Homo sapiens: one gene and its partners. Each later gene encodes a partner of the first gene's protein in a complex. Each region holds a gene or a part of one and is shown on either strand. Other genes may lie near its edges.

Region 1 (7,036 bases):
ATTGGCTTTTTATTTTCTTGGAACTATCATATTTATAAATAACTCCCAAATCTTCAGCCTATTGTCTCCCTGCTGGATTAGTAGATTGCCTAACAAACATAATATGATTATATACGTAAACACACACACACGTGACAGTAATAACAGTTGTTGTTTTTGAAGGGCTTGCCATGTGCTAGGCATTGTGCCTAGTATTTTATTTGCATATTCTCATTTAATCTTTATAAAAACACTGTGAGTGATTTACTCTTATTATTGTGAAAGATTAGGAAGTTGATATCCATAGAGGTGAATCTGCTGGCAGATAGAACTGGTATTTGGATCCAAGGATCTGAAAATGGAGCTGATGCTTGTAGCTGCTCAGTGCCCTTCAGATACCCAACTCAACATGACCCATACTAAGCTCAGTGACTGCACCCTAACAACCTGTTACAGTTATAGCTAACATTTATTGTTGCTTCTTCTGTCTACGGTACTGTTCTAAATCATTTAACCCTTACAACAACCCTTTGAGTCGGCACTGGTAGGGTGTTTTTATAGATGAGGAAACAAAAGTCACGCAAGTGACTATGGAAACTAATTCTAGGACATGGATTTTAAACTACTGCCCTGTACTGCATTATATTACAGTGTAATGATACTACTAATCTACTTATTCTAGTTCTAGAAACATGGGAATTATCTCCGATTCTTTCTCCTGCCTCTTCATTAGTTATTTAATCTTTCTAAAATATTACCTCACTCCATCACCTGGAGCGCACTGGTGCAGTCTTGGCTCCCTGCAACCTCCACATTTCAGGTTCAAGCGATTTTCCTGCCTCAGCCTCCCCAGTAGCTGGGATTACAGGCACCCACCACCACGCCTGACTAAGTTTTGTATTTTTGGTAGAGATGGGGTTTTACCATGTTGGCCAGACAGGACACAAACTCCTGACCTCAAGTGATCCACCCGCCTTATCCTTCCCAAGTATTGGGATTACAGACATGAGCCACGGCGCCCAGCAGGCTTTTTTTTGATGAATCATAGTCATAATATAGGTCAGCTTTTTCCTGGCCTATTAGATGACCATCGAGTAGTATAAATATTAAATTTTTATTTGTTTTATGATTTTTCTACTTCCGTGCTCTCAGGTTTCAATTACTCATGCTGTCATTGCACTTGCCTTTGCAGCTTCTCTTTTCTAATTTAATATAGACTAGAAAGTAGAAGACTAGATTTATTAAATTTATAACTGCTAGAAGGAGTAAATACAGGCTCCTATCACTAAAGTATAGGAATTTTTACTCCATGGATTTAGTGATGTCTGTTTTGACTGGGTGCCACGTAGTTGTTGCCTAAGTTAACTGACATAGTTAGGTATGTTTACATAATCATTCCTTTCTTTTTAGAATTTCTTAGACATTTCTGCAAGAGGAACATGAATGTGGATGTCCAGGGAATTGGAGCATTAACCAATAATGCCTTGGGCCCAGTGTGGTGGCTCACGCCTGTAATCCCAACACTTTGGGAGGCTGAGTCGGGCAGATCATATGAGGTCAGGAGTTCAAGACCAGCCTGGCCAACATGATGAAACCCTGTCTCTACTAAAAATACAAAAATTAGCTGGGTGTGGTGGCGCACACCTGTAATCCCAGCCACTCGGGAGGCTGAGGCAGGAGAATCGCTTGAACCTGGGAGGCGGAGGTTGCAGTGAGCCGAGATCACACCACTGCACTCGACAAAGGGAGACTCCATCTCAAAAACAAACAAATCAATAATTCCTGAACCAGCTTTTTTTTTAACACTCTTCAGTTTTAGTCTCAAAAACATGCATATTACATTCTAAATGTTCTAATGTGAGAATATGTTCATTTTAGACATACACCGATTTTTTTAATAAAATGGGCAATTTAGTAATATACATACTGAGTTGAACCATGGTTTTGAGTAGTTCTGACACAGTAATACACATCCAGGTTTTATTAAAGAAAGATGGTGCAAATATTTGTACTATCCTTCTCTATTGTAGCAGAATTTTCAGTGGCAGACACAGAGGTATTTAAATTCACTGTGAGTGTGCTACCCACAAGCATGCTTTAATGTAATATTGAATGCTCTTAGGAAAGTCAATCCTGAGATGGAGTTTGGTTTCTTAAAAGTGCGTTGAAATGTTCATTAATGTATTAAAACACTTTAAAAAGTTTATTAACATACCACATTAGATGTGCACTGCCTTCAAAATGTTTTTTTTGTTTCAAATATATAAATACTTTATTCAGATATGATCTAGTTTGTTTCCCTTGATTTTAGAGCCCTAAACTGATTCAAATGTACCCAAGTCATTTGCATAAGATTGGGTTAAGGGAACATAGCTTTATTGGTATAAACTTAATGAAGTAGTGGACATACAATGGCATGATCTTGTGTGAAGAACGTTTTATAATTTTTATTTGGAAGTTCCATATTACAAATACATCTCCTTTGTTTCGATAGGATCCTGATTGAGTCAATGCTTTGCATTCTCAGTCCTCTGCATAAAGCTGAGAGATGCCTACAGGTAAGACTTCTATGAAATTTATGTATAAAATTTATATTTTATACATTTACTTTTAAGTTTGGTTTATTTTAAGGGATTCTTGAACAGATTAATGAATACAGTAGATGTCATTGACCAAATATACTACATTTAGAGATACTTATTGGTTTTGTATTCAGTTTTCTATTTAATATTGTGATTAAGGTTAGTATGTATTTAATGGATGGTAGTTTGGGACTCAGATGGACAAGGTAAATAATGATTACAACATAGGGTTAGTTTTTATTCTTTATCATCAAAATTGAATGTTTTACTCCACCACAAGCATTGGCAATCTTTTCTAAAAGGGCTAGCTAGTAAATATTTTAGGCTTAGTCTCTGCTATAACTGCTCAACTCTGTCTCTCTGTCTCTTTTAAAGCATGAAAGCAGTTATAACAATTCTTAATCAAATGGGTATGTCTGATTTCAATAAATCTTTACAAAAACAAGTGACTAGCCTGCAGGCCATAGTTTGCCGACACTTGCTCTAGAGCACCCATTCATTCAGCATTTATTAATTTAAAACATAATGACTATGTACACTATGTCAGACCTCATAATAGTAGCTGGGGATGTAGTTATGGGGGAAACAGAAAATATGTTTCTTTATATAGATATAAAAATAATTATATAATTTCCATTTGGGTTGAGTGCTGTGAAGGAAGAGAACAACCTGCTATGTGAGAAAAGGGAAAATTAGATGAGTTTGTCAGGAGGTGTTTTATTTACAGGCAGCATTTAAACAGACAGGTTAACACCAGCCAGGTGAGGAATTAGAGGAAGCTTGCCTCAGAAACAGCTTCATGTGGGAAGGAGCTTGCTGTGACGGAGGAGCTAAAGGAAGGGTATTATAGCTAGAACATAGGCATCTAAGGGGATATTTGTCTTGATTTGAAGCCCTGGAGATAGATCAGGAGGTATGGAGCCCTGTAGGGCATATAAAAGACTTATTTTATCCTAAATGTATTGGGAAATTTTCAGGGGCTTAAGCATTATCTTCTTCATGTTTTAAAGGAAAAACCTGTTAATATTTGTGGAATACTGATTACAGGCTAGGCACACCTTAGCCATTTTTCATGCAAAATGATCTTTGGCATAAGATAATTGTGATTTTACAGATAAGGAAAATGAAGTTTAGAGATCTTGAGTAACTTGTCTAAAGCCACATAACACGTAACTAACAGTGGTAGATGCTACTGTTTATCAGAAATAAAAAGTTAACTTAGCAAAGGAGACTTTTAGAGTGAGTGGCCAAAAAGGTCAGAGGGATACAGGTGAATGTTGTGTCACTAAAGTCAAAATAAAAAATATTTTAAGAAGGAAAGATAGGTGAGTTTTTCTAATGTAGCTAGAGAACTCATGCCGATATTTACAAGAACTTATTTCTTAACATCCTAGTAGTGTAGGTTGTGTGTTATGATAGAGTCATTTACAAAATCACATGGCTGTATCTTTTGTAGCTGAGAGTGAAGCAAAAGTAAAAACCAAAGTTCGCTTTGAAGAATTGCTTAAGACCCACAGTGATCTAATGCGTGAAAAGAAAAAACTGAAGAAAAAACTTGTCAGGTCTGAAGAAAACATCTCAGTAAGTAAATGATCATTGGGTAATAGTGATTTACATATGCGCATAAAATGCAGATATGGCTGCATTTTATGTTAAAATTCTAAGGAATTTTGAAAATTAAAAACAGTAACACTATGTCATGGTCAATAACATGTGGTAAAAATAAAGTTTATATTAGAATCAACATCACTGTGAGAATATTGACTTCATTCTTGAGTGCTGTCCTACAGGAAGAACACACACACAGTGGGGAAAATGACCAGAGATAGTGGGGAAACTCAAAACTAGCCATGATAACATTTTTGAAGAAAATATTTTTAACCCAGAATTGTGAAGAACTTAGGAAGTAGTATCTTAACTTCAGATATTGAATAGCTTGTGCTTATTTAAACTATTTCTGTGTGATTCTACCCAACAGAACCAGGAGAAATCAATGGCCGTATGGTAATAATTATCCTTTTATGTTTGAGGCACACTTTCAAATGATAGAATCTTTGGCAGCACACTTGAAGGAATTAAAAATACAGTGCTCAAAGACTAAGCAAATCAGCAACTAACTACAACCTGATCCCCTTGGAATCATAAAGAGTCTGTATTGGCATCCACAGTTAATGCTCTATGCCCTCTTTATACCTATCTCCCTACTTGAGTTGCACTTTTTACTACTTTGACCATTATCTCTTCTGTCCTCACAGAAAAAAATAAACAGGCTCTTGTGTAAATGGTACATAGTTTTTTTTTTTTTTTTGGCAGGAGTTTTATAATGAGTTATAATCCTACATTTTGCTTGTAGTAAGATTTACCCCATTTTTTCTTAAGACCTGTTCATTTTAGTATTCTGTCTGGCAGATGTCAATGTAACAATATAAATTCTGAAGTGAGGCAAAAACAAGTAGTAAAATTGACCAAAATCCAGCTGCACATATGTGAGGGTTCATAGTGTATACACTGGTGTACGACTGCACAAAAATTTCGAACTACTGACAGAATGGACAGATTAGCACTCCCATAGTGATTGCTGCTCTGAAATAGCATGTGCTTTTTCTGGTGGTACTAGTGCACAATATGGTAGGGAATAGTGACATGGAGGATGAAACATTGCTTATTGATATATGCGCTCCCCTCAGATGGAGTGGTTTATGTTGGGCAAAAGCAAAAAGAACCCTGGAAACAGTTGTCTGCAGAGATGTTTTATGCTCAGAGAAGAACCTCATATTGTCTCTTAGTATTAAAGAACTGGGAGTTGTGAGCCATGAACAAAATGCAATTTAGACCAAGGTTTAAATTAAATGGATAATCAGAATAGGCAGAGGCTATGTCCATTTACCTAAGGTCCAGTTTAAATGTTGAGGGGCACATAAGTGTGAGGTGACTAAGCATAATTTATCCAGCCTCTCTTTGCAAACACCAGGACTGAATAGGCTTCTTTTCTTTCAGAAATAAGTACACTAGGAACAAATATTTGGGAAGATATTTCGCAGCTCAAAAGAACAGGAATATTTCTAAAGGACTTAGAGGAGAACAAAATATTTTTGACATGATTAACTTGAGGAAGTAAAAGAGGAATAGCTGCTTTCATTTGCTAGATGCCTTAATGCTTTCTATCTTTAGGCACTCTTCTAAACACTTTATATATATTTAGTCGTTTAATACAAACGACGAAATTACAGGGTTTTATTTCTGTACAGGAGAAAACTACATCAGAAGTTAAGTAACTTGCTGAAAGTTACATAGTAAATGGTAGAACCAGGATTCAAACACTGAGTGGAAGTGCAGAATCCACTGCCTTAACCACAACCCAATATTATCTATTTTAATGAAATTTGAAAAGATAGGACTTCTTCTTGAAAGAAGAACAGGGAGTCCTATGTACAGAACAGGCTGAGATGAGAAATGGAGCAGTCTGAAATAAAATTAAGCGAGGAAAAAAGTCAAAATAGGGATTCATAATAATGGCAGGTTCATCTTATATTCCAGTTATATATAAGGCACAATAATAAGAGTTTTACAAATATTATTTCTAAATCTCATGTTAATCATGCAAGATAGATATTGGGATTCTTTTTTTGCACATGAGAAATTTTATAAACAGACAAACAGACATGTTAGGTGATTTCCTTAGGTCATTTAGTCTAAAATAGGATAAGTGGGATTTAAGACCACAGTCTCTGCAATTTTAAAGTTCATGTTCTTCAGTTGCTTCCTTAAAACTATATCTCAGGCCTAAAATGATGGAATTGACACTACGGAAAAATCTAATCAGTGAAGTGGGAGACAAATTCGAGGTGGGAAGAAATGACCAAAACTAAAATGAAAGAAATAAATGATGAGGACATAGAAAGATATTTGACCCACAAATAAGTATCCCGGGACAGTACTAGTGGAGCAGAAACAATAATGAGCATGATGAAGAAACCTTGCTGAGATTTCTGAAGAGATGAGTCATCCTGCATTCCAGGCAAAATTTATGAGATGAGAACTATATCTAGAAAATTCTTTTGTTTGTATCTTAAGAGTCAAATATTGCAGACACCTAAACACAAAAACATATAGTACATTTGAGACTTCTCTGTAAAAACACTAAATCCAAAAGACAATGGAGAAATATTTAGAGCACTAAGAGAAAAATTGTAGCCTGAGGAATCTGGTCACCTAAGTTGTCAGTCATTTGTGATGGTAGTTGTAAACATATGTGCATTATTAGAGAAATATCAGTGTTCCCTCCCTGGAAAAAAAAAAAGATTTAAGATTTATTAAAGATGTAGTACCATTTCTAGATATGAATCAAAGTTAAGAATTTAAGAATAGAACATCTTAAGATCTTAGAGGAAGGGATGAAGAGAAGTTGGTTAAGGAGTACAAAAATATAGTTAGAAGGAATAAGTTCTAGTAGTCAGTATTACAGTAGGGAAATT
Region 2 (4,351 bases), on another chromosome or scaffold:
GAATGATTGATTGTGTGAATAAATGAATAAAGAAACTGTCCGCCCCGTCTGGGAAGTGAGGAGCGCCTCTGCCCGGCCGCCCCATCTGGGAGGTGTACCCAACAGCTCCGAAGAGACAGCGACCATTGAGAATGGGCCATGATGACGATGGCGGTTTTGTCAAAAAGAAAAGGGGGAAATGTGGGGAAAAGAAAGAGAGATCAGATTGTTACTGTGTCTGTGTAGAAAGAAGTAGACATAGGAGACTCCATTTTGTTCTGTACTAAGAAAAATTCTTCTGCCTTGGGATGCTGTTAATCTATAACCTTACCCCCAACCCCGTGCTCTCTGAAACATGTGCTGTGTCAACTCAAGGTTAAATGGATTAAGGGCGGTGCAAGATGTGCTTTGTTAAACAGGTGCTTGAAGGCAGCATGCTCCTTAAGAGTCATCACCACTCCCTAATCTCAAGTACCCAGGGACACAAACACTGTGGAAGGCCGCAGGGACCTCTGCCTAGGAGAACCAGAGACCTTTGTTCACGTGTTTATCTGCTGACCTTCTCTCCACTATTATCCTATGACCCTGCCACATCCCCCTCTCCGAGAAACACCCAAGAATGATCAATAAATACAAAAAAAAAAAAGAAAAGAAAAAAGAAACTGTCTTTTTCTGAATGACTTGCTTTCCTCCCAGGCGAGCTTACTATATTTGGTCTTTGGCTTTCAGACTGGTCAAGCCCAGCATTCCAGCAGCTCTCAGGAGTAACACAGACCTGCACCACCAAGTCCCTGGCAATGGTATGGAGAATGAGAGCGGGTATCTGGAAGGGAATGAGATCTGCTCCTGGGATGGCATTTGAGGTTTTATCAGGCCAAGTGCTGTGCGCCCTGGGGAGGATTCCAGAGTTGGGTGACTTGTGTGTGGGTTCTACAGGGCCACCTGGTCCGGAGATCCTGTCTGTCTTTTTGAGCATGGCAGCAGCTTGTATTTGGGTGTCCTTTTGCATCTCAGACTCCTATTTCCCACCTGGGTGATAATTTTTCTTTTTCCCTTGTGAAGATAACCTTGTCATTGGCCACAAGGAGAACAGATTCCAAGGGAGGCCTTGCCCACCCTATGACACTCCTTTTTATAGGACAAGGTGGCTCACTTCTCCTACCCATTCACGTTTGAAGCCTTCTTCCTCCATGAGGATGAATCTTCTGGTGAGTAGCTCAGCAGTTGATCCTGGGCCTTGGTTCCCCTCAAGCAGTGCTGTCTCTTGGTGAAGGCCGCCTGTGACCTGGCCGCTTCTCTCCTTGCTCCCAGATGCACTCCCGGAGTGGCCTGTGCTCTACTGTGAGGTCCTCTCGCTGGACTTCTGGCAGAGGTACCGTGTGGAAGGCTATGGGGCTGTGGTGCTGCCTGCCACTCCAGGTAACCGCTCGTCTCTGCCCTTCTGTGGCCCACATGCCCTAGGCCCTAAGAACAAGACTAACACTCGAATGCTTCTGGTGAGGGGTGGAGATAATTGGGAATTGGAAATGTTTGGCTTGAAAGAGTTCCTGTTCCTCTGAGGACTTTCTGCCCCCCTCCATTAGCGACAATGACGTGGCCTTGGCACTGACTTCCTGACAGTCTCTCCATGTGCTTCATGCTCCTCTGATTGGACTCAGGGTGAGAAGCTGTATGGCAAAATTGGCTCATAGCATATGTGTATTGAATGAATCAGCATTCAGTTTGGAATAAAAGCATCTGTCTTTTACTGTGTGCCAGGCATTGTGCCATACTTCTCACTTAATTCTCCCAGTCACTCTGTGAGGTGCAGGTGGTATTATTTCCATTTTACTAGATGAGGAGAATGAGCTTCAGAGAGGTTAAGAAACCTGTCCTGGGTATGCAGGTAATAACTGGCAGAGCGGAAATTTGAATTTCTCCCTGATTGATTTCCATACAGGTGCTATGGGTAACCATGATAACCTGCACCAGAGGCCAGGTCATCACCAGACCAGGTGTTTTAGCTGAGTCTAGGCCTGTGTCATTGCTGGGGAGTCAGTGAGGGGCCACATGCCCTTTCTGGACCTGGCCCCAGTCTTCTCTTCCCTTGCGCAGGCTCACACACCCTGACAGTCTCCACGTGGAGACCTGTGGAGCTTGGCACGGTGGCTGAGCTGAGGAGGTTTTTCATTGGCGGTTCTCTGGAACTGGAGGACCTCTCCTATGTACGGATACCAGGATCCTTCAAGGTGACTTTTGTCTTTGGAGTGACTTCACGCTGAGAACTTATGGTCCTGTCCTTCTGTAGGAGGTGGGATCTGGGTCAAGACCCCTTAGTTGTGCATTGCTTCAGTATTAACCCCTTCCTTCCTGTGGCTTAAGCTGGAAGTCATGACCACATTTTGAATCAGGTTCCAATATCTACACTGCTATCGTAGGAGGTCTCTGGAAAATAGTATAATTAGAGATTTCCCCTGGTTCCCATCAGAATAACTGGCTCTTTCCCCCATCACTGAAGGCCTCAGTAATCAGATGTGGGGAGGATTCACAGTAAGCATATAAGACCGCCGCTTCTCAAATGAGGTTGGAATGTTCCCTGGTTTAGTTGGGGGAGCCCAATAGCCCAGTATTAGCCTTGAGGTAATAGAGTCTGGGTGATGGAATAAGGTTTCCCCAACAGAACTGCGCTTCCCAAGAATGGGAATAAGAATGGGGGTGAGGCCAGCATGGTGCGGGGGTGTCTAGAGAGAGCAGAAACCTGAGGCTGTCCCAATGGCATGCCACAGGGGGAACGCCTGAGCCGCTTTGGACTCCGCACAGAGACCACAGGCACTGTCACCTTCCGCTTGCACTGTCTGCAGCAGTCCAGGTGAGTGACTTGGCCCTCTGCCTCAGGGCACCTTAGCCCTGAGGGGTGGAGACAGCCGTAACCATGTGGCTGGCCTCCCTGCAGGGCCTTCATGGAATCGAGCTCCCTTCAGAAAAGGATGCGGAGTGTGTTGGACCGTCTGGAAGGGTTCAGCCAGCAGAGTTCCATTCACAATGTGCTAGGTATGTCCCCTCCCCCAGCTGGCCACCCCAGGTCAGCATGGGCCTGTTTCTCTCTGCAGTGCAGAGAGAAATACCATATGGCAGCCAAATAGCATATCTCCTTTCCTTACAGAGGCCTTCCGTCGAGCCCGGCGCCGCATGCAGGAGGCCCGGGAAAGCCTCCCGCAGGACCTAGTGAGCCCCTCTGGAACCCTGGTCTCCTAGCTCACAGCAGCCCTGGCCCACAGTGCAAGAGGACAAGATGGGGGATATCTGAGGCCAGTGCTCTCCTGCCTCTTCGTCTTTCTGATTAGAGACCACGTTGGTCTGCTGAGAACCAGAAAAGCTGGGAAATTCCCGGCTGGCCCCTCTGCCTAGCCTTCTGCAGGGTCTTCTCCCTACCCTGTGGAAATAAAGCCAGAGACCCTGTGGCCCCCCCTTTATATTTGCAGCCACTGTCAATGGGCATCACAGCAAGGCAGGCTTTTTGATCTGAAGCTGTTTGGGGTGACCCCATAGTGAGTCTGGCCTTGACTCACTTTTCTGGCTTGTCTCACAGTAGCAGGGGATCTGCTGTTCTCCACCCTTTAAAAATGGAGCCTTTCATCTTCCAAGACCAAAGAAGGAAGGAAGGTGGACGGTGAGAGGGTCTTAAATCCCCAGCCTGTGAGTCTCAGCCTCTTTCCAGGGAAGCCTCATTCTACTGCTTGGGGCTTGCTGAGGTTGAGATATGAGTTATTTCTGAGTAAGTGAAGGCTGAAGGCAGTGCTGAGTCCTTTCTGCTAGCTGGGTGGTATCTTTTACTGTGTTTTTTTGTTTGTTTGTTTTTTTGTTTTTTGTTACATAAACCCCTTTTATTTTGACTGATGTTCTGTTGGCTGTTTGTCTGCTCAGGTTGCTGGTATGGCTAGGGTGTTCTTAATGTCGGGGCCCCTACCATGTCTGCCCTTCCCCTTTTCTGCCTTTCCCTACTCCACAGTGTTTCTTTGGGCTCTCCTAATTCAGCCCCCAGGAGAGGCTTAGATGGTTGTGCCAGCTTGCGTGTTAACAGCACTTCTCTTAAACATCTGGAGCAAAGCATGGAACTGAGGCCACGTCTTCCCTAGCCCAACACAGAAACAGCAGCCCCTGCCCTTAGCAGTGCTTTATTGGTAGAAGCAGAGCATGCTGCCTGGCCTCAGGCTCAGAGGAGTATTGTGGGGTGTCTGGAGGCTAGGACCGAGTGGTCTCTTAGTCATGGTGAGGGAGGGGAGGGAGGGCTGGGAAACAGTAGAAAGTGCTGTAAACCCTCCAGCTGACTTTTCTTGCCTGGGGTGCAAGACCACATGGCTTGGCTCCCAAGCCTTTGCACGTGGCGCTGATT
Region 3 (7,036 bases), on another chromosome or scaffold:
AGTGCAGTCAGTATTCGGCACCATCTCCAAAGTGCTGGGTGGGATGGATGAAGTCACCACACATTTGCCGCCATCTACCAGGAGAGCCATGCTGTTCATCAACATGTTAAGGGCTCTGAAAAGATGACCAGCAAGGAACCTTTCACACTTATTTAATCCAGTGTTAATATGGCCACAATATCTTTTCCTGGTGGTACATCTCACAGAACTAATGTCCTACAGAACACACTGTGGGAAACGGTGGTTTGAACTGGGCTGATCTCCTGGTGGAGTATAAGCAAAATCATCAAAGAAAAACCCAAATCCTCCATCCAAAGTCAAAAAAGTGGTTTCACCATCATTCTCAGCAAACTATCACAAGGACAGAAAACCAAACACCGCATGTTCTCACTCACAGGTGGGAATTGAACAATGAGAACACGTGGACACAGGGCGGGGAACATCACACACCAGGGCCTGTCGGGGGTGGGAGGGTTGGGGGAGGGATAGCATTAGGAGAAATACCTAATGTAGATGATGGGTTGATGCATGCAGTAAACCAACATGGCACATGTATACCTATGTATCAAACCTGCATGTTGTGCACATGTACCCTAGAACTTAAAGTATAATTTTAAAAAATTAAAATTAAAATTTTTTAAAAAGTGGTTTCAGGGACTCAGTAGCAACAAAATGAAGCAGTTCCTCAGAGACTTGAAGAAGTCATAAAATAACTAATGAAATTTCCACCACTATCAGCTGAGAACTTACAGGCCCCATGTCAGCACACCACACAGATCATTTAACACAGAGAGGCATGGCTGCTCAGTGTTCAGTGGGTTGGGCTCATATTCAGCCCTTCCACTCACCAGCTGTGTGTTCTTGGGAACTTACTTAACTTCTATGTGCCTCTGTCATCTCATGTATACGATGTGGATAATAATAGCATCTGCCTCACAGGATTGTGAGTTTACATGTGCGACATTTTTAGAAGAGGAACTGGCACATAGCAAGTCCAATATAAGTATTTGCTGTTATTATTGCTCTCTTACTTAATTTCCAGAAATAACCAAGGGACTACAAATTATTTTAAAGGGAAAAAGCTGACCAGAAAGCAGATGAAGAAGCATATGAAGCAGAAATTCAAGCTGAAATAAGTGAACTGTTAGAAGAGCACACGGAGGAGTACGCACAGAAGATGGAAGAATACAGAACGTCGTTACAACAGTGGAAGGCCTGGAGGAAAGTGCAAGTGTGTAAACAAACACTCAGCCTGGAATAGGGCTGGCCAGGAAGTGTCTGGGAGGGCAGCCTCCAGTACAGGAGTGGGGAAACCAGACTGGCAGACTAGGGTATCCTGTGGCTCCCTCTGTCTCTTCCCCGTCCCCTGGCTAAGGGATAAAAGGATGAATGAATTGACTGGCTAATGCATTTGCTTAAAAAGCCACCCAGCTGACTGATACCAGAGCCAGCTGTGTCCACAGAGAATGCTATGGTAGCACTCTGTGCCTATTTAAGTAATAATGTAGTAATCACTAATGCATGTGTCCAGCACTGTGCTGAGTATCTTACATGCATTATTCCATTAAATGTAGGGATTGATGCTTCTGAGTTTCCTTCAGAAAATTATATAACTTTATGCACATGACCCTACAAAACTGAGTCCAAGGGCAACAAATAATAGATCAGGTGGGCCTGCAATGCTCACTGTGCTTACATGCCTTATTTTAATATTTCAAGATGTGTACTTCGCCTTGAAAACCAAAATTAATGATCACATGAATACCTACCATTTTTTAAGCTCTTTCCAGGGACTAGGCTGTATGACAAATGCTTTTTAGGCATTTCAACAGTCTCATTTCAACAGCCCTGGGAGAAATTTCCTGGGCTCCATTCTGTAGATGAAAAAACTGAGGCACAGAGAGGTCAGGTGGCTTAGTGACCTGCCTGATTACACACTTCTGGTTGAAATGGGGCTGGGGTTTGTATCCAGGTCCATCTGGCTATGAAGACTGTGCTCTTAAATGAAATTCCAAAATTCCTGTTTGATATCATGTTGCCTCTAACTCAACAGAGGGCCAAGAAGAAGAAAAGGAAACAAGCAGCAGAAGAACATCCCGGTGATGAGATTGCAGAGCCGTATCCCGAGGAGGACCTTGTGAAGCCCAGCCCTCCAGAGCCCACTGATCGGGCAGTGATAGAGCAGGAGGTGAGGGAGAGAGCAGCCCAGAGCAGGAGGAGGCCTTGGGAGCCCACGCTGGTCCCGGAGCTAAGCCTGGCAGGAAGCGTAACACCCAATGACCAGTGCCCCAGGTGAGTGGATGCTCCGACCGTAAATGAGGCTGACATCTGATACACATGTTCACGTGGGCACATGCACACACACATGCACGACATGGGGAGTGTACACTTACTGACCTACACGAGCATCAGGAGTATCATTAACTCTAAATGAATATTAGGTTGAACCACATGAAATTGCTGACATTTGCCCACTTTAGGTGATTTCATATGATTCACCTACCTCATGCATCTGCACTGGCCACTCAGGAGCACACTGGAAAGCTCCCTGTAGGAGAAGCATCCCAGTTGCAAATCTCTGCCTGCTCTTCACAGTGGCTGTCTGTGTGGCTTTTGATTTGAGTCCCTTATCTGTAACCTCAATGAGTCCTTCAGTCCACTGGTAGCATGTCCCACCTTTCTGGCACAGGCACGGATGCCTTTCCTTGCCCCTTCCTTGATTTCAGCTGCTCCAGGGATCAGCTTTTCTCCTTGAAGACCCCCCAGAAAGTTGTGGGTGGTATTTAAGTCAGGCCATCTGAAGCACACCCTCCAGATATGATAAAAATACATGTCTAGTCATTCTCACTTGATGCCTAAGAGAAACATCATTTGATTTATATACATTTGTACATATAATAATTCATAAACATACATTTGTAAGTTCATCTTTTTAAAAATTATAACATAATAAAAATATTTTTATGTTTCCTATTTATTCTTTCCTTCACTGAATAGCCATGGTTCTCAAAGTATAGCCCCAGAATCAGCAGCATCAGCATCACTGAGGACTTGTTAGAAACATAAACTCAGGCCAGGCATGGTGGCTCATGCCTGTAACCTCAGCACTTTGGGAGGCTGAGGCAGGAGGATCGCTTGAGGCCAGGAGTTGGAGACCAGCCTGGGGAACAAAATGAGACCTCACCTCTATTGAATAAATAAATAAATACCCCAAACATTTTTAATACCTCACATTGAAATAAATATGTTTAAGAAAGATTAATAAAAACTAGCCAGATAATTAAAGTCAACCAACTAAACAGAAATTTAAAAAATAATTTTAAAAAAGAAAGAAATGCAAGCTCACAAGTTCTACCTGAGACTTACTGAACCTGAAACCCTGAGGTGGGGCCTAGAAAACTGTTCTCACAAGGTCTCCAAGTGATTCTGATGCATGTTATGGTATATCATCATTAATTAAAGGGAGTCCATTAAAATCATCGATACCACAAAATCCCAGGCTTAGTTCTCCAGTAAATAGAAGATCTATCATGAATACAGGGACTGTTGTACACTGGAATCTTCAATATCCCAACGTGAAAAATGAGAATTCAAATAAAGTCAGTCAGCCTCCGAGTTCATTAAAACGTGGGAGTTAATTAGGATGTCATTATAAGACTTCTCACAGTCTTGGTTTCAAACTTCTGCTAATGTTCTAATGATTGATTTATTCTAATGATTGATTTATTTTAAAATTATAGCTTTTTGTGCATTTTCATGTGTTCCCTCAACTTCACATATTAAGATATTATACATAAACTATTCCCCTGCACTAAGTAAGCAATTTTCAAGGCACAAGTACCATACCCTATAATTTTAATTTTGACATGAATGTTCAAAATATGTGATGACACAGCATGCTTTCTAAAAGGAAAATTTGGGCTTGATTTGGTAATCTTTTATGAGTGGAGTCTAAGTCTTCAGTGTCTTGGATACTTCTTGCAAATTTGCTGTGAAGTGTCCTTTATTAAAAAAATGCTGAAGTAATTTGAGCTATTTCATCTAGAATAAGTCTAAATTATAGACATGTAAAAAGTTAAAACTACCACCCCCTTTAATTACTAGAGAATTTCTGTTTGGAATGATGAAGAAGCTCTGAAGGTGGATAGTGGTGATGGTTAGACAACATAGTAATTGTATGTAATGCCACTGAATCATACACTTAAAAATGGTTAAAGTGATAAACATTACGTTATGTTATATATATTTTCCACAATGGAACAATTTTTAATAAACTACCACCCCTCCCCCAAAAAAAACCTAAGCTTGTTTCAAATTTTGATGCCCTAACCTTTTCCTTTCCTCAATTAGCTTGAATTGCTATTGACTTAACCAATAACTGGCATTTTTTGGTGGATGTCTATACACATATGTACAATAAAATTAAAGACCAATGGGAGGTTGTTTTTTTTTTTAACTTTCTGATTCAAATTATCTTTAAAAATAAGGAATATTTATTAATACTCTGCATCCATTGAACATTCACTTACTGTCTGAAAATGTTGAGAAAAACTTGGTATCTTGGAAAAATGAACTCGATCTAACTGCTACAATATGCTGCTGTATTTTTAGAATAAAACTTCTTACTCAAATATAAATCATTATTATCCCCTTTGTCTTGAATTTATTCCATTTAACAAGGAATATGTGAATTTAAAACTTTGGGACACAAATGTAAAGCTTGCCTGAAAAACCTGAGGAGACTGTAGCACAACAATGAATGGACTCTAGTTCTTAAATCCTCTGTGCCCTTTTCAGTGTCTGTTAATGGCTTCTCCATAAATTCCATACTACTCTGCAAGACCTGTGGCTCCTCTGGTTAAATGAGGGCTGACATGATTGGGAGAGTTGCCTGCAGTGTGTCTTGTTCTGTTCAGTTCTTATTTATCATATATTTTGGTGATCTTAGTAAATTATTACTAACTCCACCTGTGAATGGTCTCCTTTTGCAGAGCGGAGGTCTCGAGAAGGGAGGATGTAAAGAAGCGCTCAGTGTACTTAAAAGTGCTGTTCAACAACAAGGAGGTGTCCAGGACAGTCAGTCGGCCACTAGGAGCAGACTTCCGAGTTCACTTTGGGCAGATTTTCAATTTGCAAATAGTCAACTGGCCGGAGAGTTTAACACTTCAGGTACACATTTTAATTATAGTTACTGGCCGGGCACTGTGGCTCATGCCTGTACTTTGGGAGGCCAAGGTGGGCAGATCACTTAAGGCCAGGAGTTCGAGACCAGCCTGGCCAACATGGCAAAACCACATCTCTACTGTAAATACAAAAAAAAAAAATTAGCCAAGTGTGCTGGCGGGTGCCTGTAATCCCAGCTACTCGGGAGGCTGAGGCAGGAGAATCTCTTGAACCCAGGAGGTGGAGGTTGCATTGAGCTGAGATCATGCCACTGTACTCCAGCCTAGGCGACAGAGTGTGACTCTGTCTCAAAACAATAGTAATAATAATTATTATTATTATTATAGTTACTGCCCCAATAATTTTTTGTTCATTACAGCTTTGAGATGATTTTAAATCATCCATTGGTTATAAATATGTCTCGATAGAGTCTCAAGCCTCTTCCTTGGCACATCTGTTCTTAAAGTCTTGGAAGAAAGAGATCTGTTCCCCAACTCACCTACTGAAAATGCTGGCAGAATAACTCTGGCCACAGTGCTCTGGAGTGTCTGCCTTGAGATGGGAGAGGGGTGCTGAAGGGGGTGGGGCACAGGGAGATCTCCAGCTCATTCATTGAAGACATATTTCAACATCACCCTCTACAAGGACTCTAGTGTAATATAACAGAGAAATCAATTATGCCGCAATCATGGGAGGTTATGATGTGGGAAAGATACAGGTGCTAGGATCCCCCAAAAATTAATAAATCTCCTCACTAGCCTAAATCCCACCATTAGCAATATATTTATTTGAGTCTATTTTAGTTTCCTGGGGAAACTAAACTATAACAAGGAACCACTAACTTGGTGGCTTCAAAACAACAGAAATGTGTTTACTCACAGTTCTGGAGGCCTAAAGTCTGAAATCAAGGCGTCAGTAGGGCCATACTCCCTCCAAAAGCTCTAGAGGAGTATCTTTCCCTGCCTCTTCCAGCTCCTCCTGGCACTTAGAGTTCCTTGGTTTGTGTTAGCGTAACTCTAATCTCTGCTTCCATCTTCACATAGCCTTCTCTGTGTCTCTCTCTGTGGGTCCTCTTTTGTCGCTTATAAGAACACTCTTATTGGATTTAGGGCCCACCCTAATCTAATATGATCTTATCTTCATCCTTAACTAATGATATCTGCAAAGACCCCATTTCCAAATTAGGTCGCATTCTGAGTTTCTGGGCGGACATCAATATGTGGAGGATGCTATTTAACCCATTACAGTGTCTTCAGTCTTGCTTGTTCTTTCGGTGACTCTTCTCCCACAATGCTAACAGGTCTCTCTTATGATCCTAACAGGCTTGTTAACTAGGATTGCAGCTTTGTGGCATGCATGCCCTTGTTTCCCCACCACCACCCAGGCAGAAATCACAGATCCTCATCCATCACTTAGGCAGAAATTTCTCACTCCCCTCCACCACCCTTGCCAGAAAGCAATAATTGATGGTGCTATTTTTGTTGTGTTTTCCCACTGAGCCTGAATATAATTTTAGAACTCTTCTCAATACAGTACTTCAGGTAGCCACTACCTATTCCTAGTGAGTATGACTGACAAAGTCTGCAGGTACCATCATGGCTGTATAATTAATAAAATATTTACATACTCTGTACTGACTGATAAATAGCTGCTGCCCTGACCTTCCCAGATGCCATCCTGGCCACATAAGCCCCACTTCAAGGACCCCCTGGACCTTACCACAATTGACCAATTAAAGGGGGTGGCTGACCAAGGCCAGCGCCTCCAGGGTCCTGTTCCCAAGCTGTGGTGGGCAGCTCTTCTAATGAACCCAGGAGGTGGGTTCAATACTGTGTATTGTTCAGCATTTTGAATATCAAGCCCCGCCTAGATC

Evidence for each region. The genes of interacting proteins can lie anywhere in the genome.
Region 2: AHI1 (region 1) and MKS1 share a complex: the UniProt entries of both Homo sapiens proteins name them as parts of the tectonic-like complex.
Region 3: AHI1 (region 1) and CC2D2A share a complex: the UniProt entries of both Homo sapiens proteins name them as parts of the tectonic-like complex.

Annotation. Positions count from the first base shown.
Region 1 is NC_000006.12:135,487,729-135,494,764, reverse strand, and holds part of AHI1 (jouberin), read left to right. Parts: intron 1-2,473; 5' UTR 2,474-2,527; coding exon 2,528-2,537; intron 2,538-4,017; coding exon 4,018-4,142; intron 4,143-7,036. UniProt on the Homo sapiens protein: Involved in vesicle trafficking and required for ciliogenesis, formation of primary non-motile cilium, and recruitment of RAB8A to the basal body of primary cilium.
Region 2 is NC_000017.11:58,204,941-58,209,291, reverse strand, and holds the end of MKS1 (tectonic-like complex member MKS1), read left to right. Parts: intron 1-708; coding exon 709-779; exon of another isoform or gene 780-784; intron 785-1,117; coding exon 1,118-1,187; intron 1,188-1,290; coding exon 1,291-1,398; intron 1,399-1,562; coding exon of another isoform or gene 1,563-1,588; exon of another isoform or gene 1,589-1,731; intron 1,732-2,073; coding exon 2,074-2,207; intron 2,208-2,744; coding exon 2,745-2,827; intron 2,828-2,911; coding exon 2,912-3,009; intron 3,010-3,121; coding exon 3,122-3,213; coding exon of another isoform or gene 3,214-3,302; 3' UTR 3,303-3,851; downstream 3,852-4,351. UniProt on the Homo sapiens protein: Component of the tectonic-like complex, a complex localized at the transition zone of primary cilia and acting as a barrier that prevents diffusion of transmembrane proteins between the cilia and plasma membranes.
Region 3 is NC_000004.12:15,535,846-15,542,881, forward strand, and holds part of CC2D2A (coiled-coil and C2 domain-containing protein 2A), read left to right. Parts: intron 1-1,074; coding exon 1,075-1,231; intron 1,232-2,053; coding exon 2,054-2,292; intron 2,293-4,991; coding exon 4,992-5,169; intron 5,170-7,036. UniProt on the Homo sapiens protein: Component of the tectonic-like complex, a complex localized at the transition zone of primary cilia and acting as a barrier that prevents diffusion of transmembrane proteins between the cilia and plasma membranes.